Linked DNA regions of Homo sapiens. The protein of the gene in region 2 interacts with the protein of the main gene of each other region in a biochemical or structural test. Each region holds a gene or a part of one and is shown on either strand. Other genes may lie near its edges. The genes, in order: HIPK2, DCAF7 and LIG1.

Region 1 (10,589 bases), on a different chromosome or scaffold from region 2:
CTCACGCCTGTAATCCCAGCACTTTGGGGGGGCCAAGGCAGGCAGATCATGAGGTCAGGAGATCAAGACCATCCTGGCCAATATGGTGAAACCCTGTCTCCACTAAGAATACAAAAAATTTAGCTGGGTGTGGTGGCACGTGCCTGTAATCCCAGCTACTCGGGAGGCTGAGGCAGGAGAATCATTTGAACCTAGGAGGCAGAGATTGCAGTGAGCCAAGATCGCGCCACTGCACTCCAGCCTGGCGACAGAGCGAGACTCTGTCTCAAAAAAACAAACAAACAAAAACAAAACAAAAAACAAACAAAAAAAGAAACAGAATATATATGAAGACAGAAAAGTGTATGTCAAGTGATCCTTTTCAAGGTTACCTGTAATCTAGCATTGCTTTAGAAGTGGCAGCAAATGAGGAGTGACCCTGTAGAAGAGACCATAGACCTAGAGATCTCTGTACATGGAAAACAAGCATTTACAAAATGGAATCGATGGTCTCACAATACTGGATGAAATTTCTAGTTTCTAGCTATCAGTTTCTTCCGTATAGAATGAGGGTTGGGGTTGATGCTGAACAGTAGATTTTTTTCATCCTCAAGTAGTGCAAGATGGTGTATGGGAAGCCATGAAGGAAATAAATTTCCTAAGAGGAAGTTTGTGTGGTCCAAGTTGGATATAAAATGTGTGAGGCAGGTGAAAGAAAGAGTCCCAGATTCCTTTTGTTTCTTGAGACAGTCTCGCTTTGTTGCCCAAGGGTGGAGTGCAATGGTGTGATCTGGGCTCACTGCAACATCTGCCTCCTGAGTTCAAGTAGCTGAGATTACAGGTGTGAGTTACTGCGTGCGGCACAGATTCCTTCTTTAAAGCCAAATGCTGGCAAAAAGGAAGGACTGAAAATGAAAGTTAAGAGACATGAGGACATCCAACCCTAATAGTGTTACATCTACACTTTGCTCTTAATGTATGCTCTGCTTTTATACTTAATGTTTGCTTAAAGTTAGCTATTCTAGTAAAGGGTTGGAAAACACATATAAGCTGGACTGTCATAAAAAACTTTACACTTGTTTGGAACAGGCTAGGGCATAGCTGCTGACACCCAGCCATGTGCCCTAAAAGCAAGGAGGGGTTTGTGATGCAGGAGCACGCCCTCTAGAGCCAATGCCGCAACAGGGACCACCACAACCTGGCTGCTAAGTGAGGGCGCCATTTACTTGTTTGCTTGGTCTTTCTCTAGGGGCCGCCTTGGCTATTAAGCAGCTTATCATTTTTATTACCCCAATATTAAATATGCTTAAGGGAAATATCGACAACAGTAAGTTTATCTTTTCACTTTAGACTTAAGCAACTTTATGGTGCACGAGTGTGAGCTCCTTGGATACAGCTACACTGCCTTCCCCTTTGACCCACTCGTATCTTTTTTTTTTTTTTGAGATGGAGTCTGGCTCTGTTGTCCAGGCTGGAGTGCAGTGGCATGATCTCGGCTCACTGCAACATCCACCTCTTGGGTTCAAGCCATTCTCCTGCCTCAGCCTCCCGAGTAGCTGGGAGTAGCCACCACACCTGGCTAATTTTTGTCTTTTCAGTAGAGACGAGGTTTCACCATACTGGCCAGGCTGGTCTTGAATTCCTGACCTCAGGTGATCCCTCCGCCGCCGCGCCAGCCTGGCCCACTCGTATCTCACTGGTGTGCAGAATCTACTTCCCTTTCCATTTCCACACAATGTGATTCCTCTCAATGCATTTGTCATAAAAATGACAAAATGCATGATGGAAGAATTCTGAAGCTTTATCCGAATGTGTTGCATGGATTTTATGTAGTTTACATTTTACCTGAGTTGAATTTAATCCGAGTTGAAGTGTGGGCCACATTCAGGGTTTTGTTTTTATTACTGGAATTCTGGGAGATGCTGAATTTGGAGAGTGGAAAGGTGGGTTGGGGGTTGGATGAAGGTGGGCTGAGGGGTTTGTTCATTCACCCGAAGGTTCATTGACCACCCACTCTGTGCCTGGCATCATAATAAGATGCCCTGGAAACAGATGAAAGACAGATCTTTACTTGCAAGAATGTTAGGGTTTTGTAGGGAAGGAAAATAAGGGAAGCAATGTTGACAGTGTGGCCTAATGAGAACAATGCACAAGGCGCTGGGAACCGAGACCTGCGCTGACTGCCTCAGTCAGGAGCGTTAGGGCAAGCTCCCTAGAGAGGGCACTCAGGCTGGTTCTTGAAGGACATTTAGGAGACACGGCTGAAGATCTGAAAGAGGGAGGGGAGACTTGACGGAGAAAGAGCCCTCGGGAGAGAGGAAAGGACGGGGGAAGCACAGGGCCTTCCTCTCCTATATAGGGCTGACGGGATCCGAGGCGGCAAGGCAGATGCCACTGCGACTGGAGGAGGGGGATGAGGGCACTCTGTCCAGCAGCCTTAACCTCTTTGGGTTGCCTGGGGAGTAGAGGTCTCATGAGAGTGGGGCTCAGGGCCTGGAGAGATCGGTGTTTCCCATTAGCCACAGAAGTTGCTGCTGGAACAGAAGACCTGGCGAAGCTGGAGGTTATTCGTTTTCAGGGCTTGGTGGTCTTCCCCAGCAGCCCTCGGAGCAGAGGTGGACAGCAGAATCACTGAGCCATTGCGAGGGGGTGTGGCAGAGGCAAAAGGCTGTGAGCTGAGGGTGTAGGGGAAAAGGTGGGTGGAGGGAAGGGCTGTGGAGTTTAGTCTGGCCAACCCAGAGGCACAGAAGACCGAGGGCTTGGAACCCAGAGCTCCCCAGACTTGAAAATCCTGGAAATGGAAGCCAGGATGAGTGCTGGGTGGAGAAACAGGACACCTTGTGCATTGCTGGTGGGAATGTGAAACGGTACAGCTGCTGTGGGGAACAGAATGATGGGACCCCAAAGGGTTAATCTTAAAATTGCTGTAGGATCCGGCAGTTCCCTTGTGGGTACACTCCCGGAAGAACTGAAAGCAGGGATTTGAACAGATCTTTTGCACACCAATGTTCACAGCAGCATTTGCACAACAGCCAAAAGGTGGAAGCAACTCAAATGTCCATCAACAGATAAATGGATCAGCCAAATGTGATCTCTCCATACAATGGAATATTATTCAGCCATGAAAAGGAATGGAATTCTGATGTATGCCATAACATGAATGAACCCTAAAGACATTATGCTAAGTGAGATAGACCAGACACAAAAGGACAAATATATGATTCTACTTACATGAAATATCTAGGATAGGCAGATTCATGGAGACAGAGTAGAAGGGTGGTTGCTAGGCACCGGGTGGAGGGAGAAATGGGGAGTTGTTAATGGGGACAGAACTTGTGTTTGGGATGATGAAAAAATTCTGGAAATGGTGGTGACACCTATACAATAATGTGAACGTATTTAACGTTGCTAGTAGTCCACTTAAAATGGTAATTTTATATTATGTATATTTTACCATAATTTAAGACAAAAAGAGTGTCAGAAGGCTGGGAAACCCCAGTCCCAGCAGGATGTGGCGTTTCTTAGGCTTGCTGAGGTGGAGCTGCTGCAGGCACAGCGCCTGGACGGGGCTGTGGCGCACGTAGCTCAAGTGCGCAGTGGCAAGGGCCCTGGCAATGGGCCAGCAAGCCACGAGGCTCCGGGTGCTGATGGTGTCTGGTGAGACGGCAGGGCCTGGGTGCGGAGGATCCGGGATGCATATTGGAAAGCTTCCAGGACAGCAGGTGACAGCCACACCTTAGGTGTCAGGGACAGAGATTGGGAGCAGATGGGGCTGAAATGGCTTGGAAGAGGCAGCAGGAAGCTGGGAGACTCTTAGCCCCACTCAACTGCATGGGAATTGGTAGTAATGTGATCTCAAGGCCCCCCACCTCTCTCTGCAAATGTTCAATGCAGTGGTGGCTTCTACACATTTCCAGAGCCATTAAATAATCTCGGCCCGGCGCAGTGGCTCATGCCTGTAATCCCAGCACTTTGGGAGGCCGAGGCAGGTGGATCATCTGAGGTCAGGAGTTCGAGACCAGCCTGACCAAAAAATGGAGAAACCCCATCTCTACTAAAAATACAAAATTAGCCGGGCGTGGTGGTGCATGCCTGTAATCCCAGCTACTCGGGAGGCTGAGGCAAGAGAATCACTTGAACCTGGGAGGCGGAGTTTGCAGTGAGCCAGGATCGTGCCATTGCCCTCCAGCCTGGGCAACAAGAGCAAAACTCCATCTAAATAAACAAACAAACCCCAAATATGTTACTTGTAACAATAACCTCTTCGCTTTTATGACAGGTCTGGTTCCAGGATAAATAAGCATGCCAGGCAGGTGTACAGTGATTTCAAACAGTTTAATGTAATTCCAAGACAAAGTGTGATTACATTTCTACACATATACAATATGCATATGTGAGTTTACAAATTTTAATTAATAAGTCATTTCACCTCGGAGACCGAAAAAATGATCAAAAAGAAACTATGAGTAACAAGCTATAACATAGTTCACCACAATGGGACCCCCCCCCCTTTTTCTCACCCTACAGTTAGTAATATTACAATTAAAATAACTATATTCTTCTATATTTTTTCTGTTAAAATCATCTCATAAATTTACAATGCTATTATTAGTTTCCAAGACTAATATAAATTCACTCCATTTTTCTACAACGAAAATGATTAATTTAGAAGCACACGACGTCATGATGAAAAACACAAGCATTTTAGTAGCAAGGACTTGATCAGTTAAGAATTAGTTTTCTTGTAAAACATTCTAAAGCCAAGTAAAATATCCATTCTTATAACATACCTATAATATGAGACTAAGGAATAGGTTACATATAGGTCTACAACACATTGGTTTGTCTTTAAAAAAACAAAAGTAGACATTTATAAATAAAAAAGAGGGACAATTCACATAGGAAAAAGAGGTACACGAGAAAATACTGTTGCACGCAATAATTTTCACACAGATTAACATGGATTAACACTTTTTATTACAGAAACCGTACGGTGAAGGAACACAACAGACCAGGGCTTTCATAGGGTTATTGAGATTGAGCTGAGATGACCTGGGAGAGAAAGATCTAGGTGAGATGACCCTGGGGAGGGAGCCACGTTCCTTGGACCTGGTGACTTAGTGTCGCCGGGTCTCCTCTTCCCTGTTCTCATTTTGGGGAGTGAGTCTTTCTATCCAGTGTCCTGAATTCATGAGCAGTTGAAAGGTAAACATTTCTGCAGATCCATTCTCTTTCTATCCTAATGGATACCATTTTTGGAAACGTGACAGAGTATCAGAGGCTGCAGCTCAGTACACGTGGTCAAAGCAAAACGGGATGGAAACTTCCAGTCACTCTGATTTGTTGCCCCCGTCACCCACTGATGCGCTTGAAGCTGGGACCCAGTGAGACAGCAGCAGCACCCTACAGGGCCTGCTGGCTCTGCCGTGGTGAGGTGGATGACAAGGGCCCGGCGCCACGCCTCAGCCCCATGTGTGCGGAGTGGCCTGGGACACAGCCCATGCACGTCCAAGACACCAGTCTTGACTCCGACCTCTAAAGAGCTCCTTCTCCTCATCTGTAAAGCTATACTTCTCCTATCCAATTTGGTTTGATATATATACACAAACATATATATCAACATCTATCTCTATACAGTGATTCTACTAAATTAGAAATTCTGCTGCCCCAAAGTATGACTTTCTTGTCTATTTCATTTGGTTAAAAAAATGCACACACAGAGGATGAAGAGATGATTTGGGGGCTAGAGATGACTGTGCCCTGGAAAGTCCATGGAAGAAGCTTGAAGTGAGCAGGAACACAAAAGGGAGGAGAGCAGAAACGGGGGACCGACTGACTCAGGGCAGCGCTGACGGGAACATCTGCTTGGGGTGGGGCGGGGCGGGGGTGTGCTCTCTGTTCCATTTGTTAGTTACAGGAAGCTACCAAGGATGCACATGGTCAAGTCACTTTCTACTTCCCAAGTTCCTCCTTATAACCTGAGCCAAACAATTTCAACAATGACAATCCATTGCCCCTTCAGCCCAGCAGGCGACTCTGACAGGGAGGTGTGACCACCAGTCTCAAGGCTGAGTGGGGCCTTCTTGCTGGCTCTCGCGCTTTCTGGGAGTCCTGGGTGCCTTGGCCCAGGGCAGTGGTGACAGCAGGGTGGAGGCAGAGGTGGCCCCGGGGACAGTGACCCTATATAAGGAAGGGGGCGGTGCCAGGAGAGATTCGTTTGGAGATTGGTTACAAGGAAGCGAGGGAGAGCAGAGGCAGAGCCCTTTTTCAGATACAACATACTTACTTTTCAAATGAACAAAAGGCAATTTCTATGTTTTAAAAATATAAGCCCCAAAAACAATGACACAAAATTCATTTGGTTAATTCATGTAAAGGAAAAAACAGCAACACCACCACACAAACAGGAAAGTGGGAGTATGATTAGGAGGGGTGAGATGAAAACTATTTTACAGTAACATTTCCACCAAAAGACTGTCCTAAGAACACGCTGTCAATACAGTTCACAGGGAAAAAGCAAATGTGGTATTTTTTTGTATTTTTTAAAAGCTCCCTGGTCCCAGGTGTTTTGCAGTTTTCAAGGTCTTATCTGCTAAAGGAATGCCCTTTAGGTCACAGCAGGTCCTCTGCAGTTTGGTGGTGGCACAAGAGAAAACATAAAAGAAACCAAGACTCAGGGAAACTGCCATTCCCCCAGTCTGTTTCTGCATGACAGTGGGGCCCATTCCTGTCTCGAAGCATCTTCTTGTTCCAAATATGATGTCTGTTTAGAGTGGGTCTCAATGGACCAGGCTGAGCTGCCCCTCTGTCTCTGCCTCCTCCTGCTCAGCCCTGACCATCTCTGAGAGGATGCTAAGGTCCCCCTCCCACCGAACTAGACTTTGAGTCTAAGCTGGACAATGAGTAAAACGTAAACATAGCCTTTTACATTGATTTTGCTTTTAAGGGGAAAACGAATAAATGACAGCAGATATATGGAAAACCCAGCCAGCGACCATGGGAATAGGGGTATATGGTCCTCCCCTACAAAACGCTGATCAAAATATCACCCCCGGCCCAGAAGTAGCAGCTGTGCCTTCATGGTCACCTGAATCCCAGTCTCTTCTACTGCCTGGTGCCTGGAAATCAGTGGATCTATTAATAAGTTAAATATTCAAATCAAGACAAAAATCAATGAACCAGGTTATCTGTTCTCAATGACTCTTCCAAGATGTCAGAGAGAAGGCCTTGAAGACAAGTGTTTAGACGACACGCATGAGACCTTCGCATCTGGCCCGGGCTGCGGACTCACACCTTTTCCCTCCATCTGGATTGCCTTTCATGTTCTCTTGAGTTCACGTGGAAAGTAATAATCCAGAGGGAAGTGCGCATGCTGGACTACAGAAGAGTCTGGGACAACACACTTGCCTTGGGGGAGACACAACCTCCAACTAAGAGGCATTCACTGGGGTTTGCGGATGTCAGTTATAAACAGAACTTTTCTTTAAAAAGTACCAGTCTAAATGTAAACTATAAAACACTTTAACTATAAAACGTAGCCAGAAATATGCTTAAGTATCCACAGTCAATTGTTTAGTTTACTCATTTAAAATGTGACTGTTTTGATAGCTTAGAAGGCTAACAGCATTTTACAGTAGCTAAAAACATATATACTTAACATGTGCATTTGAACATCGCATTTGAGTACAACACACAAAGAATAATCTCTTCCTTGGTTTAATTTTTGTTGTAAAGATGAGCTATTTTCAGAATTCACTTAAGCAACGATGACCGGGGGTATGAAGTAATCATTATTTTCAGCCCACAGAGAATTCATAGTCTTTAAATTCCAAGATCAAGCTGGCTACATGATTTCAAAAAAGGCTAAAACCAGGATGAATGCCCACATTTGAGGTAATTATTGCCATTAGGTCACAGTTTGTGTAAGATAATGTATCTAAAACCTTCTAAAAAAAAAAAAAATCTTTAGGTGTTCTGCCAGAATTCCAGAATACCTATTGAAACCAACCAGGATCTCAAACTCCGATTAGTTAGGTTTGCTTCCAATGGAGTTAAAGTTCTAAAAGATTCTAGAACTTGTGTAAACTACCTAAGAATTTAGGCAAACAAGCCTGGAGCCAGTCAACAAAGAAGGTTTTAAATGAAAAAAGGAACAAGAAACCCACTCAAAACAACTGAACAAATATTTCATAATAAATGATAATAGTTATTTTAAAAAATTAAAAATCTAGTCCTAAGCATTTCTACATTCTCACCATCTTTCAATCAAAATAAAAATGCATCTGTATTTCTGTTAATCTCATACCAGGGCAAGAGACACGCCTTCCTTTTATCATGAAAGCTGGCTGGTTTTCCTGTTTATACAATTGTTGCTATTTCTTTGAGAAGAGTATCTCAAAAGAAAACATTCTTTTGTTCCTCTAAGTCTTGTCTTTCTTCCACCTCTACTTCTTTTTTTTTTTCTTTTTTTTTTCTTTTTTTTAACAGAAAGAAAAAAGTTCCTGGACACCAGACCCACATATGGTATTTACAAATTTGGTGTGAACCCTGCCTCTGGTTCTGCCCAGAGCTGAAGAGTGAATCTATTACAGAGATCAGAGCTGTCAGGATAATTATCAAGTGCAGTAAAAAATAGCATTTTGAAAAAAATATATACCTTTAGTATTGCCTTTCTAGAATTAACTATAAGCAAGAAAAACTTATTTTTTAAAGAAGAAAAGAATACTTTTTCACTCTTACTTATAAGAGCTGGTTGTAGCAGCACTACTAAAGCTAGTTGGTATGCTGGAAAGAAATCTAAAAGGAATTCTATGAATCAAAAGAAACTCTCCAGAGATTTTCTCTAAAAATCAAACGAATTCTGCCCCTTTTGCCTAAATCCAACTCAGGAGCCCCCTCTTTGCACAGTCCTTTAGCTGAGTCCCACGGTGCATGGGATGGCACAGGGTGATGCTGTGTAAAGGCCTTTCTTTGCTCAGACATGCAGGAGACAGCTGTGGCTAATGGCTGCAAGCTCAGTTCTGGAGCTGGGCAGACTCAGGTTCAAGCCCTCCTCGCCCCTCAAGAGTTGTGTGGCTCTGGGCAGTTTCCTTGGCTGTAGGGGGACTAATATTGCCGATCTCACAGGGCTACGGAGAAGATGAAACAGGACAACCCATGAGCAATTCCCAGCACAGTGTGTGGCATGCAGGAAGCGGGAGTATCACTAAATGGTTCATAGAAATATGAGGCCACGCATTGCTATTAATTAAAAAAAGTTAAAAGATTAAAAATCACATCTCAGGAAGGGCCTGATGAACAAAAAAGGGAACCTTGGGGATTCTGGCCCATCACTGCTTTATCCTTCCTTCAACACCTGCCACTTCTCAGAGCATCCGGTCAGCTCCCTTATCTATAAATGGGGGCTGTTATCCCCCTCCCTGTGGGATGGCTGTTGGGGCCCCTTGAGACAACGCTCATAAAGGCCTTAGCCCGGGAGTCATGAAAGCATTCAACAAATGTTGGCTATTATTTACTTGAGAGATATTGCAAATTTTAACAAATAAGGGACAGTCAGTGTCATGTTCAACACAGGGATCTGAGATGAGGGGCTCCCAGAGGCTTGGGCAAGTCCAGCGGGGGGCATCGGGAAGACCCTCTCTGGTGCTGGTGTTCTGGGACGGGAGCCCTGCAGGGGGCACTTCTCTGCAAACTCTCACTGGGTTTGAGGGAAGAACGGCCTGGAGTTCTTTTTTGAACTTTTCAGAAGCTGCAACAAGAGAAACCTCTACTATGCTGGGTCCCTCTAGTGAGCCACGGTGCCAAAAGCCTCCAATAGGTTTTTTTTGCATTTAAATCCTGTTTCACCGCCTTCCATTCTCTAGTGGCCTGAGATTTTACTGAGTCTGGTCTGTGGAGATGAGAAGTGAGAGTTCTAAGGCATCAAAGTGGAAAAGTACTGCTATTCCGAGCCCAGCCCCCGCGTGCTCTACGCCCTTGATGCAACTGAACTCCTGGCAGCCCTGCTTTGCTCTCTCCCATGGTGGCCTGGGATTAGTCAAGCCCACGTATTGGTATGGCACCTTGTCTCCCGATAGCAGCAGCATCGAAGGGGTCACCTCCACTCCTCTTAAAAGAATAGCACAGTTTTGAAATAAATGCATTTTTTTTTTTTAAAAAAAAGGACAGAGAGGAAAGAGAAAGACAAATAGAATTGCATCACTAATGATGTCATTATTGCCTGGAAAGGAACGAAGGGAAGGCCATTTTGTCCATTTCTGGAGGCGTCTTTGAGAAGGGTTCTTTGGCTAAAGAAAGGAACAGTTTCACCTTCCTTTCCAATTTGGTAAGGACATCTCTGGCCTGCTCAAGTTTGAAGCTTCCCCATCAGAAGTCTGTAAAACACACCAGAAGGAAAAGACACAGACAGGGAATGAAGCCTGCAAAGTCCCTGGGGCTGGAATGTCTTGTGGCCAAGTCACTCCTGCTGGCGCTGTGGAGTCCCAGGCTGGCCTGCAGAAGGAACCCTTACCTCTCCTCAATTCTCTCTGCTAGTTGAGAGCACCGAGCCATTTCCTTCTTTCCATTTTCTGTCCTAGGGTCTACTTGACAGGCCAACAAGAGTGGTGGTC
Region 2 (13,660 bases):
CTGTGCTGTGGTGGGAAAAAAAAATTCTCTTGCTGGCAAAGTCACAGACAGTCATACCACTGTGAGCACCTGACCCCATTTGTAATTGAAGGAAACAAAAAAATTTAGCTAGAGGTTAATGGAAATATGGGGATAATTTTCCAATTCAAGTTCACAGACCCCAAGTTAAGAAACCCTGCGAGAGAGAAGTATGTGTAGTGGTTGGTGAGCAGCAAATCCTGCCTTAAAGTGATTCTCAGGCTAAGTTTGTGAGAAACCCTGCCAAAGAGGTGGTCGACTTCATAATTTGGAGGAACTTTAGAATTATTGGTTGGAATTTTTAGACCATTGGTTCCTGCTTGCCATGGATAGTGGTCACCAGCAGAGGATAAAGTAAAATGGACACAGCAAATTAACACTGATGAAAAAGGCTAGAAGTGGTCATCTTTTTAGTGTGGAGACATTCACTAAGAAAACATGGTTGTAATTTTTAAAAATTTGCATTAGCATAATCATGTTTTCCTAACGTAAAATTGTACCTAGTTGATCCATAGAATTAAGTCTATCAACAGTTTAAGAAATTGACTTCCAGGTGTTCCTTCATGTGAATAAATTTGGGAATTGTTGCAGAGTAAAGAAACAGATTCTATCAACTACACTTGGAATAAAAAGCCCCATTATAGGGCTGGGCGTGGTGGCTCACACCTGTAATCTTAGCACTTTGGGAGGCTGAGATGGGAGAATCGCTTGAGCCCGGGAGTTTGATACCAACCTGGGCAACATGGAGAAACCCTGACTCTACAAAAACATTAAAAAATTAGCCAGGTATGGTGGCATCTGCCTGTAGTACCAGCTACTTGGGAAGCTGAGGTAGGAGGATGCTTTAAGCTCAGGAGGCAGAGGTTATAGTGAGCCAAGATCACGCCACTGCACTCCAGCCTGGGCGACAGAGCCAGACCCTGTCTCAAAAAACAGCCTCATTATTGGTTATTATGTTTCTACCTTCTTTTGTTGTGGTCTCTTGAGGGATACAGCAAGATTGGTGTTGGAGCAACAGGTTCTCTAAATTTTAGTGTGTGAGAATCCTGAGGGAGCTGCACATTCCTGGGCTCCACCCCTGAAGTTAACAGACTTGGAGATAGGTGACAGACACACTAGTGGTTGAGTGGTCCAGATGGCACTCTCAGAACATGGCCCTGGAGCTGCCTTGGCATCTGTTGGCCAGAGGCGAGAATGTGATCTTTTTGTGTCTGCATGCTCCTAAACATTGGTTCTGCCCTTCCATCCAAGTTCACCCATGAAAAAAGCTCTGTGATTAGCCTGGGTTATCTAAGTCCTGCCACTTCCCAGTTTTGTATTGCCTTGGGCAAGTTATCCTCTGTGTCTCAGTTTCATCATCTGTAAAATTAGGGCAATAAATAATAACATCTACCTTGTTCAAAGATTAAATGAGTTAATATATGTAATGGACTTAGGAACGCCACCCGGTGTGGAATAAGCCATATAGAGATGTTAGCTGTTATTTAATTATTATCATTACTGTACCTGTAATTGAAATATAACCAAAGAGAATTATATGGCTGTTTAGTAAATTTACTTTTGTATTTTCCAGAAAGGATTCAGGAATAAGAGGTCAGAAAGGTAGCTGAAAAGGTCATTATTTCATTCTCTGCCTTTTAAAGACTCTGGGGGGAAAATTCCCTTATCTCTTTCAACCCAACTCATTTTGTAGTCTAGCAGATTCTTATAGTCAGACTCCAAGTAGTGTAATTTTCTAGTTTAAATCCATTTTCTCTTGTTCTACCTGGCTTACCTACGTAAGTCAGATATAAGAATTTGGCATTTCTCCTGTGTTTTGACAATATGTTTGGTCTTTAGGCCCAGGTGTTATTTCCCCTCTTTTATTGGGAAAAGCTGGGTAGCAGTTCCTGGGCTTCTGTTCCACTTAAGTGCATGTTTCAGGGTTGGTTTTGATAAAGATGGCAGTGTGATTGGGATTTAGTTTGCCCCAGTATTTAACTGACTACTTGTGCTCTAAGATTTGGCATCCAGAGAGTATTTTTGAGGTTCTGAGGAGAGACTGTAGGTATATCTGATGCTTTTTGGAGAATCCTAGTAGTGAGTCTGGGTGGCATGACCACCTTGTACTTGAAACACTGGGATGGGTACTCACCTCACCAGCCTGTGTTGATTCCTCTGAGGTTTTTAATACAATTACTTTATATGTTTGATGCATAATTATTTCGACTCCGGTATTTAATTTTTCATCTTGGTATTTGCGGTAGCCCTTCAGGATTATCATTCATTTGCTCATTAATTTAGCCGGTCTGTATTGAACACATACTCATGTGTTTTAGGCACAATGTGTTTTGGTACACATCAGTACTTTTGATAGATATTTAGAATGTCGCAGTGTTCCACGAGTCCCTGTCAAGACTGTCAGCAGGGGAATTTAAGACATAAAACTCTTCTGGTTTTAACTTCCTCCTTTTTCTAGACAGTGAGAGGACTCATTCCCTGTTGTGACCACTGGATAAAAGTGATAATGCTTTAAAAAAAAATGCTACTTTATTGCTTTTTGTCCTAATCTTGTTCACATAGACTTATTGGAGATGCTGTCACTTGAACAAGGAGTGAATCTATGCTCTGTAGGTAGCCTGGCTTGCCTAAGGACTTGCTGCCAAAGCTCTCGCTGCCAGAGCTCTCTGGTCAGCCTCTGAGCCACGAGCCAAAGGTGTGCTGTGCCAGAATTCATCTTAAAGTTTAATAGGGCAGGACCTTGGGTACCTGCAGACACTGGTCCTTGGTAATCAGTCAGGAAGAGGCTTGAAGAGAAAGCAAATAGAAAAGACCAGGAAAAGCTAGTGTATATTCTCAGAATATTGTGTTAGCCGATTTTTGTTTTATTAACAATTGTGGGAAAATGTTCCAGTGACTGGAGTGTTATGTTGATTTGGATAACTTGGGAGCTTATTTTAAAAATTACATATACATACACACATTCACCTTCTTCTTCTGCACTAGGACTGTGTGTGTTAAAGTGGAATATGGCCAGGCGCAGTGGCTCATGCCTGTAATCCCTGCACTTTGGGAGGTGGATGCAGGCAGATCACCTGAGGTCGGGAGTTCAAGACCAGCCTGACCAACATGGAGAAACCCTGTCTCTACTAAAAATACAAAATTAGCCAGACATGGTGGCACATGCCTGTAATCCTAGCTACTTGGGAGGCTGAGGCAGGAGAATAGTTTGAACCTGGGAGGCAGAAGTTGCAGTGAACGGAGATTGTGCCACTGCACTCCAGCCTAGGCAACAGAGCAAGACTGTTTCAAAAAGAAAAAATAAATCAGGGCCGGGCGCAGTGGCTCATGCCTGTAATCCCAGCACTTTGGGAGGCTGAGGCTGGCGGATCACGAGGTCAGGAGTTTGAGACCAGCCTGACCAACATGGTGAAACCCCGGCTCTACTAAAAATATAAAAATTAGCCAGATGTGGTGGTGCGTGCCTGTAATCCAAGCTACTTGGGAGGCTGAGGCAGGAGAATCACTTGAACCTGGGAGGCGGAGGTGTGGTGAGCCAAGATTGTGCCACTGCACCAGCCTGGGTGACAGAGTGAAACTCCATCTCAAAAGAAAAAACAAATTAGCTGGGAGTGGTAGCATGCACCTGTAGTCCCAGCTACTCAGGAGGCTGAGATGGAAGGATCACTTGAGCCCAGGAGGTCAAGGCTGCAGTGAGCCAAGATCTTGCCACTGAACTCCCGCTGGGGTGACAGAGCGAGACCGCCATCTCAAAACCAAAAAAACAAAACAAATGGAATCAGCACAATAGCTGTAGAAAGATGCTATTAGAAAGGATGGGGGGAAATGGAAAATAAGTGGCAGATAAAGTACCCATACTAAAAAGATGTCTTTAGCTTGGTTGAAAAATAATTGTCAGTCCTACCACTGTGAGTTCAAAGAACTTAAGAAAATACAGAACTTCAAGCAGAGATATAGAGGATTGGGTAAAATAAGGCATGGCAAAGAGAAAATATAACATCAGCTGGCAGAGCACACAGGAAAGTAGTGGAAGAGAAAACTAAAATTATCACAGGATTAAAAGCCACATTGGAAACAGAATAAAGGCTGGGCACAGTGGTTCACTCCTGTAATCCCAGCTACTTGGGACACTGAGGCAGGAGACTTACTTGAACCTGGGAAGAGGAGGTTGCAGTGAGCCGAGATCATGTCACTGTACTCCAGCCTGGGTGATGAAGTGAGACTGTCAAAAAAAAAAAGAAAGAAAGAAACAGAATAAAGATGAACACACAGTGCTGAAAACAGTAAAGGTTAGGGAGGACAGATTGAAAAATGAAACTGAAGAAAACAATGAGAACATAATAGATGCAGAAAGTAAAAGAGATCTGACGTAAGTATAATTGGTGTCCCTCAAGAAGAGGACCAAAGAAATGAAACAAACTCAAATATATGGTTAAAGAAGAACTTAGAAGTAAAGATTTGAAGTGATAAGTTCAAATTGGCATGATTTGAACTTGCCAAAGATTTGAAGTGATAAGTTCAAATTGGCATGAAGTGATAAGAAAAATTGGCACTGAACAGTTGGCACTGAAACATTTCCTAGGAAAATTTCTTTTTTAAAAAATTTATCTTATTTTTCGTGTGTTTTGTTTTGTTTTGAGACAGTGTCTCACTCTGTTGCCCAGGCTGGGTGCAGAGGCATGATCCCAGCTCACTGCACTCTTGACCTCCTAGGCTTAATCGATTGTCCCACCTCTGCCTCCCGAGTAGCTGAGACTACAGGTGCACACCACCACGCCCGCTAATTTTTGTATTTCTTGTAGAGGCAGGGTTTTGCCATGTTGCCCAGGCTGGTCTCAAACTGTGGGCTCAAGTGATCCACTAACCTCAGTCTCCCAAAGTGCTGGGACTACAGGCCTGGCACAGAGCCTGGCATCCCTAGGAACATTTCTATGTTTTAAGGATGAAGAAAGAATTATTTGGACACCCAGACAAAATGATCAAGTCCTCTTTAAGAGGGGAAAAGAAATTAGGCTAGCTACATTTGATGACAGAAGGCCATGGAGCAATGTCTAGGAATGTACAAATACTGTAGATTGTGCTGCTATAAATACTTGGGGATATACTTAGGCATATGTAAGGTTTATGTGGAAATAATAATGCTGGGGAACACAAAACAATACTCGAAAAATGGGAAGGTATTCTCTTTTCTTGTATAGTAAAGCTTGGTATCCTAAAGATGTCAGTGTCCCTAAACTTAATGTAATCCCTGTTTAAAATACCACAGTTGTTTTTTCTGGAGACAGGGTCTCGCTCTGTCGCCCAGGCTAGAGTGCAGTAGTGTGAGTATAACTCACTGTAACCTCAAACTCCTGGGCTTAATCAGTAGGTGTCTCACTATGTTGCTCAGACTGGTCTTGAGCTCCTGACCTCAAACAGTCCTCCTGCCTGCCCAACCCAAAGTGCTGGGGTTACAGGCATAGGCCACCATACCTGGCCAAAAATACTCCAGATTTTTAATAATGGTTTTTTAGAACCAGGCAAACTGATTGTTTCTACAGATAAATTTTACAAACATGCACACATTGTCAAAAAACTTCTGAAAAGGTGGACTAATGATGGATATTAAAACATAATGCAAAGATATAATAAATAAGATCGTTTGATACTCTAAGAACTGATGTATAAACAGAGTCTAGAAATGAACTCAGAATACAAAAAGAAATGTAGTCTGTGCTAAAGGTGATAGGAAATGAAGAAAAAATATTTTTAAGGCCAGGCACAGTGGCTCACGCCTGTAATTCCAGCACTTTGGGAGGCGGGGGCAGGCAGATCACGAGGTCAGGAGTTCGAGACCAGCCTGGCCAACATAGTGAAAGCCCGTCTCTACTAAAAATACGAAAAATTAGCCAGGCATGGTGGTGGGCACCTGTAATCCTCGCTACTTGGGAGGCTGAGGCAGGAGAATCACTTGAACCCAGGAGGTGGAGGTTGCAGTGAGCCAAGATTGCATCATTGCACTCCAGCCCGGGTGACAGTGTGAGACCCATATATATATATATATGTATATATATATACATACATATATATACGTATATATATGTATGTATATATATATGTGTATATATATGTATATATATATGTATATATATGTATATATATACGTATATATATATGTGTGTGTATATATATATATATATATTTTTAATAATTGGTATTGAAACCAGAAAAAAAAATTGGATCTCTACCTTAAGCTTTGTACCAGCCGGGTGCAGTGGCTCACACCTGTAATCCCAGCACTTTGGGAGGCTGAGGCGGGTGGATCGCCTAAGGTCAGGAGTTTGAGACCAGTCTGGTCAGCATGGTGAAACCCTGTCTCTACTAAAAATGCAAAAAGTAGCCGGGCATGGTGGCAGGTGCCTGTAATCCCAGCTACTCGGGAAGCTGAGGCAGGAGAATCGCTTGAACCCAGGAGGCAGAGATTGCAGTGAGCCGAGATGGCACCATTGCACTCCAGCCTGGGCAACAGAGTGGGACTCCGTCTCAAAGAAAAAAAAACCTTGTACCAGAATTCCAGATAAATGGAAGAATGTAAACATATAACTGTAAAACACGGGAGAATCTTGGTGTGAGAAAGCCATGAAAGTAGAAGTAAACTATATAAAAATAAAATCTCTGTAACAAAACCAAAGTCAAAAGATAAGTGACAAACTGAAAAAATACATGTAATGTCCTAGACAAAGAACAAATCCCTTAATAACTGCATATAAAGATCTGCAAATCACCAGGAGACCAGTCACCCAGTAGAAAAAGAGAAATAGATAGGAAGAGTTTCCAGAAAGGATATGTAAATGATTCTTGAACGTATGAAGAACTGAACCTCATAAGAAAAAAAAAAAATGGAGTTTCAGCTAGATTAGGAAAAATAAAAAACCGTGGTAATCTACTGTGTGTGTGTGTATACACGTATGTGTAGCTTTCCCATGCAGTTGCTATCAAAATTTAAATTGGCATTATTTTCCACCTGGTAGTTCCGCTAGTGGTAATTCATCCTACAGCTATACTCATGTGGTTGAAATGACTAAAGTGCAAGGATATTCATTTTAGCATTATTTGTAAAAGAAAAATATGAAAATATTATTATTAGGGAAATTGTTGAATAAATTATGCTACCTCCATGCAGCTGTTAAAAGAATGAGCTAGCTTTTCATATACTGATATGGAATATTTTAAAATAAATATTCGGTGGAAAAATATGTAGAAGAGTAAACACCTGTGTTTTTTAAAAGCATATGCATATACATATGTACACCCATATGTGGTTGTGTGTAGAAGGGATACACAAGAAATTGATAACATTGATTTTTCCAGGGAAAGGGACTGGGATGTAGGGGCTCTAATTTGTACTGTAATTGCTTTGCTTTTATGCCTTTCAAAATTTGGGCCTTGTGTATGTATTACCTAGTAAGAAAGTTAGTAATAAAAAAGCTAACATTAATAAAAATTAAATCTTAGTAGAACTTCAGAAAGAGGAATAAACAGAAAGGAATGAATGAAGAAGCACTAGGCATATAGTAGCAAGAAGCAGTTCTTTTTATAGAGAAGAAGTCAGGCATGATAATATTAACATCAGATAAAATTCAAGGCAAAAATGTTGAAACAAAAGGAAATATTTTACATGTTAAACATACAGGCTGGGCGTGATGGCTCACACCTGTAATCCCCACTACAGGCTGGGTGCAGTGGCTCATGCCTGTAATCCCAGCACTTTGGGAGGCTGAGGCAGTCAGATCACTTGAGGTCAGGAGTTCAAGACCAGCCTGGCCAACATGGTGAAACCTTGTCTCAAAATACAAAAATTAGTTGGGTGTAGTGGTGTGTGCCTGTAATCCCAGCTACTTAGGAGGCTGAGGCAGGAGAATGACTTGAACCCGGGAGGCGGAGGTTGCAGTGAGCTGAGATCACGCCACTGCACTCCAGCCTGGGCAATAGAGCAAGACTCTATCTCAAAAAATAAAAAAGAAAAGTACAACCGACTAAGAATAAAAAGTCATAAGTCTTTACATATCTAAGAGTATAGCGTTTAAATAGAAAGCAAAAATTTTGTAAATATAGGGAGAATTTGGTTCATATGTTGGAAATTGTTAAGTGAAGTAGACAAAACAAGGATATAGAGGGTTAGAAAATTACAGTTTGTTCACACCTGTAATCCCAGCGCTTTGGGAGGCTGAGGCTGGCAGATCATTGGGCCCAGGAGTTTGAGATCAGCCTGGGCAACATGGTGAAACTCCATCTCTATCAAAATATAAAAAATAGCCAGATGTGGTGGCACCATGCCTGTGGTTTCAGCTACTTGGGAGGGTGAGGTGGGAGGATCGCTTGAGCCCAGAAGGCAGTGGCTTGCAGTGAGCCTAGATCGAGCCACTGTACTTCAGTCTGGGTGACAGAGTGAGACCCCATCTCGAAAGAAGAAAATGTGTTATAAGTATAGAGAGCTTTGCATTCAACGGAAAATTCACTTTAAACAATAACCCAATTTACAAAAACTGTGTATTTAGAAAAAAAATTTTTTTAAGTTGAAATCAACTGATTGGAAAAAAAATGCTACATATCAAAACTTACAGGAAGGTGAGGAACCTGAAGCTCAGCTATGTGCTAAGTGGCTTGCCCAAAGTCATATAAGGGGTAAAGGAGGGCCAGAACTAGAGTGCTGTCTGTCTCCAGAGTGTTCAGAATAAATGTATGTCAATGTCCAAAAAAAAAAAAAAAAAACTTAGGGGGAAAAAGAACATGTTGAAAAACAGAGGAACACTTACCCTACCAGATTAGAATAAACATACTGGAATTGATATAGCCAGAGAGATAGGTGGAACTGAATAGAATATTTCAAAGACAACTTTAGTATATATAAATGTGAAATATGTGATAAGATAGAACTGTAATTCACTGGGTAAAAGATTACATCGTATGGCACAGTTGTTCATCTAGCAGAAAAATTTAGAACCCCTAATTCACAGTGTATGATGAAAACTAATTCCAGATCAAACGTCTAATTATAAAGGAAAGTCCACAAACATTATTAGAAAGTTGATCAGGAAATTTGTCATGAGGCAGTGGGGGTGCGCACGGACACTCATTAATTAATTCCAGAGTCAACAAAGGAAAAGATTGGCAGATTCTATAGTACATACAAATAAAACATTTCTCTGTGAAAGATATGCCATGGACAAAGTCAAAAGACAGCAGAAAATATTTTCTTTTTTTATTTTTTATTTTTTATTTTTTATTATTATTATTATACTTTAAGTTTTAGGGTACATGTGCACAATGTGCAGGTTAGTTACATATGTATACACGTGCCATGCTGGTGCGCTGCACCCACTAACTCGTCATCTAGCATTAGGTATATCTCCCAGTGCTATCCCTCCCCCCTCCCCCCACCCCACAACAGTCCCCAGAGTGTGATGTTCCCCTTCCTGTGTCCGTGTGTTCTCATTGTTCAATTCCCACCTATGAGTGAGAATATGCACAAGAACAAAAAACCAAACACCGCAGAAAATATTTTCTTTTTTTTTTTTTTCTTTTGAGACACTGTCTTGCTCTATGAGCTGGGCTGGAGTACAGTGGCACAATTCACAGCTCACTGCAGCCTCAACCTCTCAGGCTCAAGAGATTCTTCCACCTCAGCCTCCCAAGTTGCTAGAATTACAGACGCACAACACCCTGCCTGGCTAGTTATTTTTATTTTTTGTAGAGATGGGATCTCGCCATATTGCCCAGGCTGGTCTTGAACTCTGGGCTCAAGCAATCCTCCCACCTTAGCTTCCCAAAATAGTGGGATAATGGGCATGAGCCACCAAGCCCTGCCTGGCGGAAAATATTTTCAAAACATGACAGACAATAGTAGCTAATACTCAATGCAATAGAAAAATGGACAAAGGGTATGAATATCTAGTTCATAGGAGAGGAAATGCAAGTGATCAGTAAACAGGAAAAATGCTGAACCTCACAGGTAGTTAAGGGAAATGAGAATTGTGATATCATCTTTCCCTTTTAAATTTATAAAAATTAAGTTATTGCTTCTAGTGCTGTTGACAGTATGGAGAAATGAACACCTTTACATACTGCTGCTAAGAATGTTAGTTGCTACAGTCTATTTGAAAAGTAAGTTGGTGTCTATTAAAATTTAAAATGCACATACTTTCTAATACAGAAATCCCACTGTTAGGACATTGGCCTCCAGAAAAAAATACAGCAGTTCATAAACACATATGTACAAAGGCATATAAATAAGTAGTGGTGGCTGGGCGTGGTGGCTCATGCCTGTAATCCCTGGAGCTCAAGAGTTTGAAATCAGCCTGGGCAACATGGTGAAATCCCATCTCTATAAAACAAAACAAAACAAAAATTTAGCCTAGCATGGTGGTGGGCACCTCTAGTCTCAGCTACTCGGGAGGCTGAGATGGGAGGATCACTTGAACCCAGGAGGTGGAGGTTGCAGTGAGCTGAGATCGTGCCACTGCACTCCAGCTTGGGCGACAGAGTGAGATTCTGTCTCAAATAAATAAATAAATAAATAAATAAATAAATAATAAAAATAAGTAGCGGCAAGTAAGAGAAAACAGTGTACAGCACTGGGGGAATCCCGGTACATAGATTAAAAAAATGATTTGGCTCTTCATATTGCTCTGAGGGATGTCCATTATTTTGTCAAATTAATAGAGATTCATAGCCTTGGCTCTAGAATTTCATTTTTCTAAAAGTTGAGGGAAAACTTTACACTTAATGTATATATGTTTGACCATATAGAAGAATGTAGAAGCAACACACAACAAATTATGTGATATCTTGGGGATGACATAGAGGGATGTTAACTTTATACACACACACACACACACACACACACATACACATATATACACACACACCTGTGTTTTGTTTGATTTTATATGATGTGATACACTTTATAATCCTCTTACAATCTAAAAGTACATTTAAAGAATGTAATAAACCCAATTGGAATGTCATCAAAATAGATAAAACTTGTAAAAATGGACAAGAAAATGTTAGAGGATATAATGGTAAGGGGTTCAGGCTAGAACTCTGGTATCTAAATTCTAGCACTCACCTCTTTTTCCACTGGAGTCTTATCAAGGAAATTATATACAAATAATAGTAGCCAAAGGGGAAACCTAGCATCATTTTATTAATAACCGAACAAGAACCACTAATGTGGTGCTGCTCCCTGGTGAACTAAGTGGGGAAAATGCAGTTTGGCCTTGAAGCCTCAGTGAAACTTTCTGCTTTTCTACCTCTGACTCAAGGACAGACCCAATCTGACCTCTCCTACCCAGTTGTAGGTTCAGAGAAACTGGAGCGGAGGATGGTCAGGCCCATTCTGAGGAGGCCAATTTGCCTGTCCATGTAGGAGCAGGATAAGCCAGAGCCAGAGAGCCATGGGACATGTCTGACTGTAGAGTGGTCAGGCCCATGCACCTGTCTCGGGCTTCAGCCAATCACTTCAGCAATTCTTCCCCCACCGGAGGAGCTAGTGAGTGGTGGGGACAGAAGAGCAGAACTCCCACGCTCAGTATTCCCTCCATGGGGGACTGGGGCAAAAACTCATCCTTCCTATGGGCATAGGCGGAAATGTGGTGTTGGGGGATGAGGAGCTTAAAGAATGAGAGTGCTACTAACAATTTGTAACAGTACAGTCACGAATCTAGATGAGGAGTTGGGCTCAGTGGCTCATGCCTATAATTCCCAGCACTTTGGGAGGACCAAGGTGTCAGGATTGCTTGAGGCCAGTAATTGGAGGCTGTGGTAAGCTATGATCATGCCACTGCGTTCCAGCCTGGGTGAGAGTGAGACCCCATCTCTTAGAAAAAGAGAGAAAGTCCTTACAAATCAATAAGAAAGAGATATCCACAACCCAGTAGAAAAACTGGACAAATGTTCTAAGCTGGTGATTTCCGTGTAATGGTGAAGAGTTTGGGTAGTGGGATGGGACTGCCTGTATTTAAAATAGAGCTTTGTGGCCGGGCATGGTGGCTCACACCTGCAATCCCAGCACTTTGGGAGGCTGAGGTGGGCGGATCACCTGGGGTTGGGAGTTGGAGACCAGCTTGACCACCATGGAGAAACCCCGTCTCTACTAAAAATACAAAAATTAGCTGGGCGTGGTGGTGCATGCCTATAATCCTAGCTACTGAGGCAGGAGAATCACTTGAACCCGGGAGGTAGAAGTTGTGGTGAGCCAAGATCGCACCATTGCACTCCAGCCTGGGCAACAAGAGCAAAACTCTGTCTCAAAAAAATAATAAATAATAATAATAATAAAATGGAGCTTTGTGATATTGGGCAAGATATTTAACTCAACATTCTTTACTGAAAGTGGGAAGAATAATAGTACCTACCTCATGGCAGTATTGAGAGGATTAAATGAGATGATGTGTGTAAAGCATTAATAATGCTTATACTTGGTCCATGTAAGTGCTCAGTTATTAATGATTATTGTTATTCAAAAGTAAAGGTAGTCAATGAACAAATGTACTCAGCCTCTGGCCAGGTGCAGTGGCTCACGCCTGTAATCTCAGCACTTTGGAAGGCCTAGGTAGGCAAATCACTTGAGGTCAGGAGTTCGAGACCAGCCTGATCAACATGGCGAAACCCTGTCTCTACTAAAAATACAAAAATTAGCTGGGCATGGTGGTGTGTACCTATAATCCTAGCTACTCAGGAAACTGAGGCAGGAGAATCGCTTGAACCCAGGAGGCAGAAGTTGCAATGAGCCAAGATTACACCACTGCACTCCAGCCTGGGCAAGAGAGTGAGACTCTGTCTCAAAAACAAAACGAAAATCCCAGCACTTTGGGAGGCCGAGGTGGGCGGACCATGAGGTCAGGAGATCGAGACCATCCTGGCTAACACTGTGAAACCCTGTCTCTACTAAAAATACAAAAAAATTAGCCGGGCGTGGTGGTAGGCGCCTGTAGTCCCAGCTACTCGGGAGGCTGAGGCAGGAGAATGGCGTGAACCTGGGAGGCGGAACTTAGAGTGAGCAGAGATGGCGCCACTGCACACCAGCCTGGGCAAAAGAGCGAGACTCTGTCTCAAAAAAAAAAAAACAACAGTTACACTTATAGAATCTGTCCAATAAAAACATTTGCACACACATACAAAAATAAATGAGTAAGAGTAGTAGTATTAGCAAAAGTAGAGTAGTATTGTATTAGCAAACAATGGTACATAACCAAAACAACTGAATAGTTAAATAAATTATGGTGTGCTTACCATAATCTGCTATAGAAGAATGAGGGAAAGGAGAGCTATTTGTACTGAAGATCTTCTAAGATTATTGTTAAAAGCAAATTGCAGAATACAGCTGACAACGGTGGCTGACACTGGTAATCCCAGCAATATGGGAGGCCAGGGCGGGAGGATTGTTTGAGCCCAGGAGTTCGAGGGAGACCCTATCTCTACAGACAATTCAAAAATTAGCTAGGTGTGGTGTCTGTGTACCTGTGGTCCCAGCTCCTTAAGAGGCTGAAGGATCGCCTGAGCAGGAGGATCGCCTGAGCCTGGGAGGTCAAGGCTGCAGTGAGCTGTGATCATGCCACCGCTCTACAGTTTGGGTGACAGAATGAGACCTTGTCTCAAAAAA
Region 3 (6,637 bases), on a different chromosome or scaffold from region 2:
AGGCATCTGCCACCACGCCCGGCTAATTATTTTTGTATTTTTAGTAGAGACAGGGTTTCACCATGTTGGCCAGGCTGGCTCGAACTGCTGAACTCAAGTGATCCACCTGCCTCGGCTTCCCAAAGTGCTGGGATTACAGTTGCGAGCCACCGCACCCAGCTTGAATTCTTATTTTTTAAAAATAGATATGAGGCCATAATCCTAGCACTTTGGGAGGCCAAGGCAGGAGTATCACCAATTTTAGAACAGGATTTCACCAGGGGGAAGATGGTCTCCCCTGCTCCCCCTAACGCCAGGCTCACCTCTTCAGTGCCCGCAACTCCAACCATCGCAGGATCTTTTCACTCCTAGACCTGACCATGCCACTGCCCCGCCTGCGGGATAAGGTTCTACACCTCGCAGGAGCTCATGAGGCTCTCCACAGTATAGTTAGTAGTTATAGATGCAGGGTCAAGGAGCTGACAGCATGGACCAAACCCTGGCCCACCACTTCCTAGATAGTGGACCTAGGGAAGGTAACTTACATCCCTGTGCCCCTCAGTGTCCTCACCTGTTAAATGGGGAGAATAAAAGTACCTACCTGGTGGAGCCATCATGAGGGTCACTGAGGAGTGAGGATGACCCTGACTAGCTTCAGCAGAGGGACATGGCGGCCGTGTGTGGCAGATGTGTTCCTGGGGCCCTGCACTGGTGCAGGGAGGAAGAGCCAAGCCCAAAGGAACCATGGTCTCCACACAAAGCCAGTAATGTGGGGATCCCCTGACATACAACATTTACTTTTTTTTTTTGCCTTAAACATTTTATTTGAAATTGAAACACAAATGCACACTAATTTGCCAGTTCTTTAAGGCAGAGCTGTATCAGGAACTCTTAGCTATGAGAAACAAGTCTTTTTTTTTTTTTTTTTTTTTTTTGAGACGGAGTTTTGCTCTTGTTGCCCAGGCTGGAGTGCAATGGCTCGATCTCGGCTCACTGCAACCTCCTCCTCCCGGGTTCAAGCGATTCTCCTGCCTCAACCTCCTGAGTAGCTGGGAGTAACAGGCATGTGCCACTACGCCCGGCTAATTTTGTATTTTTAGTGGAGACGGGGTTTCTCCATGTTGGTCAGGCTGGTCTTGAACTCCCGACCTCAGGTGATCTGCCCGCCTCGGCCTCCCGAAGTGCTGGGATGACAGGCATGAGCCACTGTGCCCGGCTGAAAGCCATGTTTTAGAGTGGCATAATCGCCCTGGGGCTTATTCTTCCCCTACTCCCATGAACAAAAGCCCACAGTTAGGCAGCTGCTGCCCTAGGTTCGCCGGTTTAGGGTCGTCAGGAGAGTTTGTTACTCTTTTTCCTCATCATTACAAGGTGGTGACTTGGCTCCAGCCATCATCTCTAGTCAAGGCAGGAGGAGGGGAGGAGCTGCCACAACCAGGGCTGTCCTTTTTGGTCAGGAAAGATGTTTCTCCAGAAGTCCCCAGCAGCCCCTGTGCTTATGTCCCCTGGGTCTGCCCACACAGGGCTACAGGGCCACTGCTAGCCCCAAGGAGACTCGGAAGGCAATGTTGTCTTCTTGGGCTACAACAAATAGAAACAGAATGCCCAAGAGATTGTGTGCACAAGAGACCATGATGGAGACACAGGAAGAGAGACAGGGAGGCTGAGTCACAGTGACAGACAGCAAAGTAAGCCTGGCACAGACTTGCACGGCAGAGAGCAAAGCCTCGCAGATAGAGAAGGAAGGGGAGAGAGGGCGGGTGGGAGACAAGGGCAGAGGAACCTGATGAGAGAGAAGGGAAGGAGGGAGGGCAGATGTGAGAGGCAGAAACAGAGTGTGAGGGGCAGGGGACAGCTGGGAGCCCTGTGTCCCCCCTGCGGGAGTATCAGGACACCCTGACACTCTCATGCCCGGAAGCTCCTGTTCCACGCTGGGCCCCGGGGTTAGAGGCCTCCTGCTCTGGAAGACCCGAGCCTGGGCCCCGCTCCGCGTGCAGCCGTTTTCCCCAAGCCAGCCCCGTGGTGCCCAGGGCTGGGTGGGTGTTCCAGGCATCCTGCTTGCCTTGTCTGACCATTTCCCGATGGTTTTCCTCTAACATATCATCCCATGTGGGGTGGCTGCAATAATAACAGCCCCCATAGATATCCAGGTCTTAATCGCTGAAACCTTTGATGTGACCTATTTTTTTTTTTTTTTTGAGATGGAGTCTCGCTCTGTCGCCCAGGCTGGAATGCAGTGGCACGATCTCGGGTCACTGCAACCTGTCTCCCAGATTCAAGTGATCCTCCTGCCTCACCCCACTAGTAGCTGGGATTACAGGCACGCGCCACCATGCCCAGCTAATTTTTGTATTTTTAGTAGAGACGGGGTTTTGCCATGTTGGCCAGGCTGGTCTCGAACTCCTGACCTCAGGTGATCCACCTGCCTCAGCCTCCCAAAGTGCTGGGATTACATGCGTGAGCCACCGCGCCTGGCCCTTTTACATTTTTATTAATTTTATTAATAAAATTAGAGGAGATGAAGTCTGGCTGTGTTGGACAAGCTAGTCTTGAACTCCTGGCTTCAAGTGATCCTCCCACCTCAGCCTCCCCAAGTCCTCCCCAAGGCGTGAGCCACTGTGCCTGGCCTCTGTGAATGTGTGATCTTATGTGACTAAAGGGACTTTGGGATTGAGTTAGGATCCTGAAATGAGATTATCCTGGATCATCCAGGGGGCCCTAAATGTAACCACTTGAGTACTTGGAAGAGAGAAACAGAGATCTGATGGAGGAGAGGACGTGACCTGATGACCTCAGGAGAGAGATTTGCAGGTGCGATGCTGCTGGCTTTGAGGACGGAGGAAGAAGCCATGAGCCTAGGAACCAGGTGGCCTCTGGAAGCTGGAAAAAGGACACAGTTTCTCTCCTGGAGCTCCCAGAAGGAACCGGCCCTGCCACCACTTTGATGTTAGCCCAGTAAAACTGATTTTGAACTTCTGACCTCCGAAACTGTTTAGGGAATACATCTGTGTTATTTTAAGACACTGCATTTGTCTTCCTTAACAGGGCTCACGATGGTGCCTCCCTGTGGGATGGCTGGAAGGTTAAACAAGTTAAAAAATATATGTATGTAAAGATTTTAGACTACTGCTGTCCAATACAATTAAATAAAATATTTGGTATGGCTGGGTGTGGTGGCTCACGCCTGTAATCCCAGCACTTAGGGGGGCTGAGGAGGGTGGATCGCTTGAGGCCAAGAGTTCAAGATCAGCCTGGCCAACATGGCGAAACCCCATCTCTACTAAAAATACAAAAATTAGCCAGGCGTGGTGTCACATTCCTGTAATCCCAGCTACATGGGAGGCTGAGGCAAGAGAATCACTTGAACCCGGAAGGTGGAGGTTGCAGTGAGCTGAGATCTCATCATCGCACTCCAGCCTGGGCAACAGAGCGAGACTCTGTCTCAAAACAAAATCAAAACAAAACAAAACAAAACAAATTCGCATCCTCTGTCATGCTGGCCACCTGTCAAGGGCTCGGGCATTGCAGGTGGCCAGTGGCGGTCACACTGCACAGAGCAGATAGAGAAGACGCCCACCACTGCAGGCAGTTCCATGGCTGGCACTGGCTCTGGCAGTTCCTAGGCCATGGCTACATGGCTACATGCTATGCAGGTGACACCCATGACAGCTTTGCCCCCAGAGCCCAGCACAGACCCTGTCACAAAGTAGCTATCCAATAATTATTTATTGAAAGAAATGACGGGATGAATCCCAGACTCCGGAGTAAGCCACCCCCTCACACACACACCCCTCCCCTGACTCTCAAAATCCACAGCCTGCCACAGCAGATTTGCTAAAAAGCAAAGGCAATAATAACCCTGGGGTCCGTCCAACTCATGCCCTGTACCCAGGCCCTAGGAGGGCGAGGGCTTAGTAGGTATCTTCAGGGTCAGAGCCTGAGTCCTCGCCTTGTTGGTTCTGAATCTGACTTTGCTTCCGGTACAAACAGGCCACCTGCGGAGAGAGGGTGGGACGGGGTGGTCAGAAGCTCCCTGGCTGCTCCCACCTCCACAAGGTTCCAGAGAGGCCACCACGCTAAAAAGCTGGTAGGGCCAAGCAGCTGGGCGGCCCACCCCTGCTTCCCAGGACCTCACCTGAGCACTGGTGGTGGCCTGCTCCGGCTGCTTGTCTTCACGGACTCGAATAAACCGAGGGAAGCGAAGGGAGATGCCCTTGTCACTATCCACCTGCGGAAGCGGGATGGAGACTCCTGCGGTCCAGCCCCAGCGACCCCCTGCTCAGTCTCCTCCCTCCTCCACTCTGGACTGTTTCCTGATCCACATGACGGGGCCGAACGATGGGTTGTCATAAGGATTAAACAAGTTGACAAAGTGCTTGGAACAGTACCCGGGCACAGTAAGTGCTCAAGAAATGCTGCCTGTTGGCCGGGTGCGGTGGCTCACCCCTGTAATCCCAGCACTTTGGGAGGCCGAGGCGGGTGGATCACGAGGTCAGGAGATGGAGACTATCCTGGCTAACACGGTGAAACCCCGCCTCTACTAAAAATACAAAAAGAAATTAGCCAGGTGTGGTGGCGGGCGCCTGTAGTCCCAGCTACTCAGGAAGCTGAGGCAGGAGAATGGCGTGAATCCGGGAGGTGGGGAGCTTGCAGTGAGCTGAGATTGCGCCACTGTACTCCAGCCTGGGTGACAGAGCGAGACTCCAACTCAAAAAAAAAAAAAAAAAAATGCCACCTGCTACAGCCGTTACGATAATGACGGTAATTCGGGCTGAGAGGCTGAACTACGGCGCCAGGGTATGGGTTCTAGAATCTGACTGTGGGATTCCAATCCCAGCTCCCAACTCTCAGGAGCCGCGTGATGCAGGGGCAGTTACTCAGGCTCTCTAGGGCTCTACATCCTCACCGTAAAATGGAGATGTTTGTGTCACTACGTCTTACGGATTTTGAGAGGATTAAATGAGTGTCTATGAGTGACACGCTGATGACCACACAGTGCCCACTGCACAGCAAGGGCTGGATACACACCGGCTCCTGTGCCTTGTTACTAAGGGTCCCTGGCTGTCTAACGTGCAGCATGGTAAAACATTTTTAAAAATTAGATCAAAAATGTAAGTTCTTGGCTGGGCATGGTGGCCCACACCTGTAATCCCAGCACTTTGGGAGGCCGAGGTGGGCGGATTGAGGCCAGGTGTTTGTGACCAGCCTAGTCAACATGGTGAAACCCCGTCTCTACAGGCACGGGTCACCATACCCAGCTAATTTTTCTATTTTTTGGTAGAGGTGGGGTTTCACCGTGTTGGTCAGGCTGGTCTTGAACTCCTGACCTCAAGTGATCTGCCTGCCTCGGCCTCCCAAAGTGCTGGGATTACAGGCATGAGCCACTGTGCTTGCCCTGGGAATTCTTTTATTTAAGAAAAGAATTTTCTTTTCTTTTTTTGAGACAGAGTCTTGCTTTGTCACCCAGGATGGAGTACAGTGGTGTGATCTCGGCTCACTGCAACCTCCGCCTCCCAGGTTCAAGCGATTCTCCTGCCTCAGCCTCCTGGGTAGCTGGGACTACAGGCACCCGCCATCACACATGGCTAATTTTTGTATTTTTGGTAGAGATGGGGTTTCACCATGTTGGCCAGGCTGGCCTTGAACTCCTGACCTCAAGTGATCTGCCTGCCTCGGTCTCCCAAAGTGCTGGGATTACAGGCACGAGCCCCCATGCCCGGCCCATTTTTAAAGAAAAAATGTTTTGATCTTTTTATCTGACACTCAAATAAAATGCAAGCTCATCTTCCTGATCCTTACCTGGAAGAGCAGATGTGAGCCAAGGTCCCCTCCCTACTCTGCTCTCTGTGTGCCCGCCCAGAATCCCACACAGGGCCACGGCCAGGTCCTCTGCCACTCACCAGGCCCCGCGCAGCAGGGTAGATGGGAGAGAGGGAGAGGTCAGCGCACTTCACCTCCCACACAGCGCTGGGGTCCAGCCAGTGGTCGGGAATCACAGCGCCATCTATCCGCACGTAAGGGCGTGGGCTGGGCAGCACCAGCGCCTGCAGTGAGCAGAGGAAGAGAGGAACAGAGGGTCTGGAATCTCAAAGTCAAGGCCAAGTGTTGGAGGGCTGGGGAGAGGGAGGAAGGGAAAAAAACAGGCACCCCCTTGAAGTAAACAGAAATAGGAAGTGAAATAAGGGAAAAGAAACAAGACACCCCCTTGAAGTAAACAGAAATAGAAAGAGAAACAGAAAGTGAAAGAAGGGAAAAGAAACAAGACCCCCTTGAAGTAAAAAGTTGAGAAAGGTGGGAGTTGGGAGGAATGGGAGATGGAAAGAAATGAAAGGCCCTGGGGGCTGAGGCAGGACATTAAAGACAAAAAGAGGCAGAGAAAGGGCCAGAGACCTGGAGGAAGGAGACAGAGACACAGTGGGACAGGGACAGAGATGTAGAGAGAGAGGGCAATGGAGAGAGAGAACCAAAGAGTGGGACAGAGATGGTGTCAGGGTCCGTGTGTCCCCACCCACATCTTGTCTTGAATCATAGCTCCCAAAATCCCCATGTGTCGTGGAGGGACCTGGTGGGAGGTAACTGAACGATGGGGGCAGGTTTTTCCCGTGCTGTTCTCGTGATAGTGAGGAAGTCTCACGAGATCTGACGGCTTTATAAAGGG

What was found.
Region 1: the proteins of DCAF7 (region 2) and HIPK2 form a complex in vitro, tested with the Homo sapiens proteins (one study listed by BioGRID).
Region 3: the proteins of DCAF7 (region 2) and LIG1 form a complex in vitro, tested with the Homo sapiens proteins (one study listed by BioGRID).

Annotation. Positions count from the first base shown.
Region 1 is NC_000007.14:139,557,275-139,567,863, forward strand, and holds the end of HIPK2 (homeodomain-interacting protein kinase 2), read right to left. Parts: 3' UTR 4,296-10,589; downstream 1-4,295.
Region 2 is NC_000017.11:63,553,260-63,566,919, forward strand, and holds part of DCAF7 (DDB1- and CUL4-associated factor 7), read left to right. Parts: intron 1-13,660. UniProt on the Homo sapiens protein: Involved in craniofacial development. Acts upstream of the EDN1 pathway and is required for formation of the upper jaw equivalent, the palatoquadrate. The activity required for EDN1 pathway function differs between the first and second arches.
Region 3 is NC_000019.10:48,111,759-48,118,395, forward strand, and holds the end of LIG1 (DNA ligase 1), read right to left. Parts: intron 6,024-6,637; coding exon 5,880-6,023; intron 4,208-5,879; coding exon 4,115-4,207; intron 3,975-4,114; coding exon 3,891-3,974; 3' UTR 3,687-3,890; downstream 1-3,686.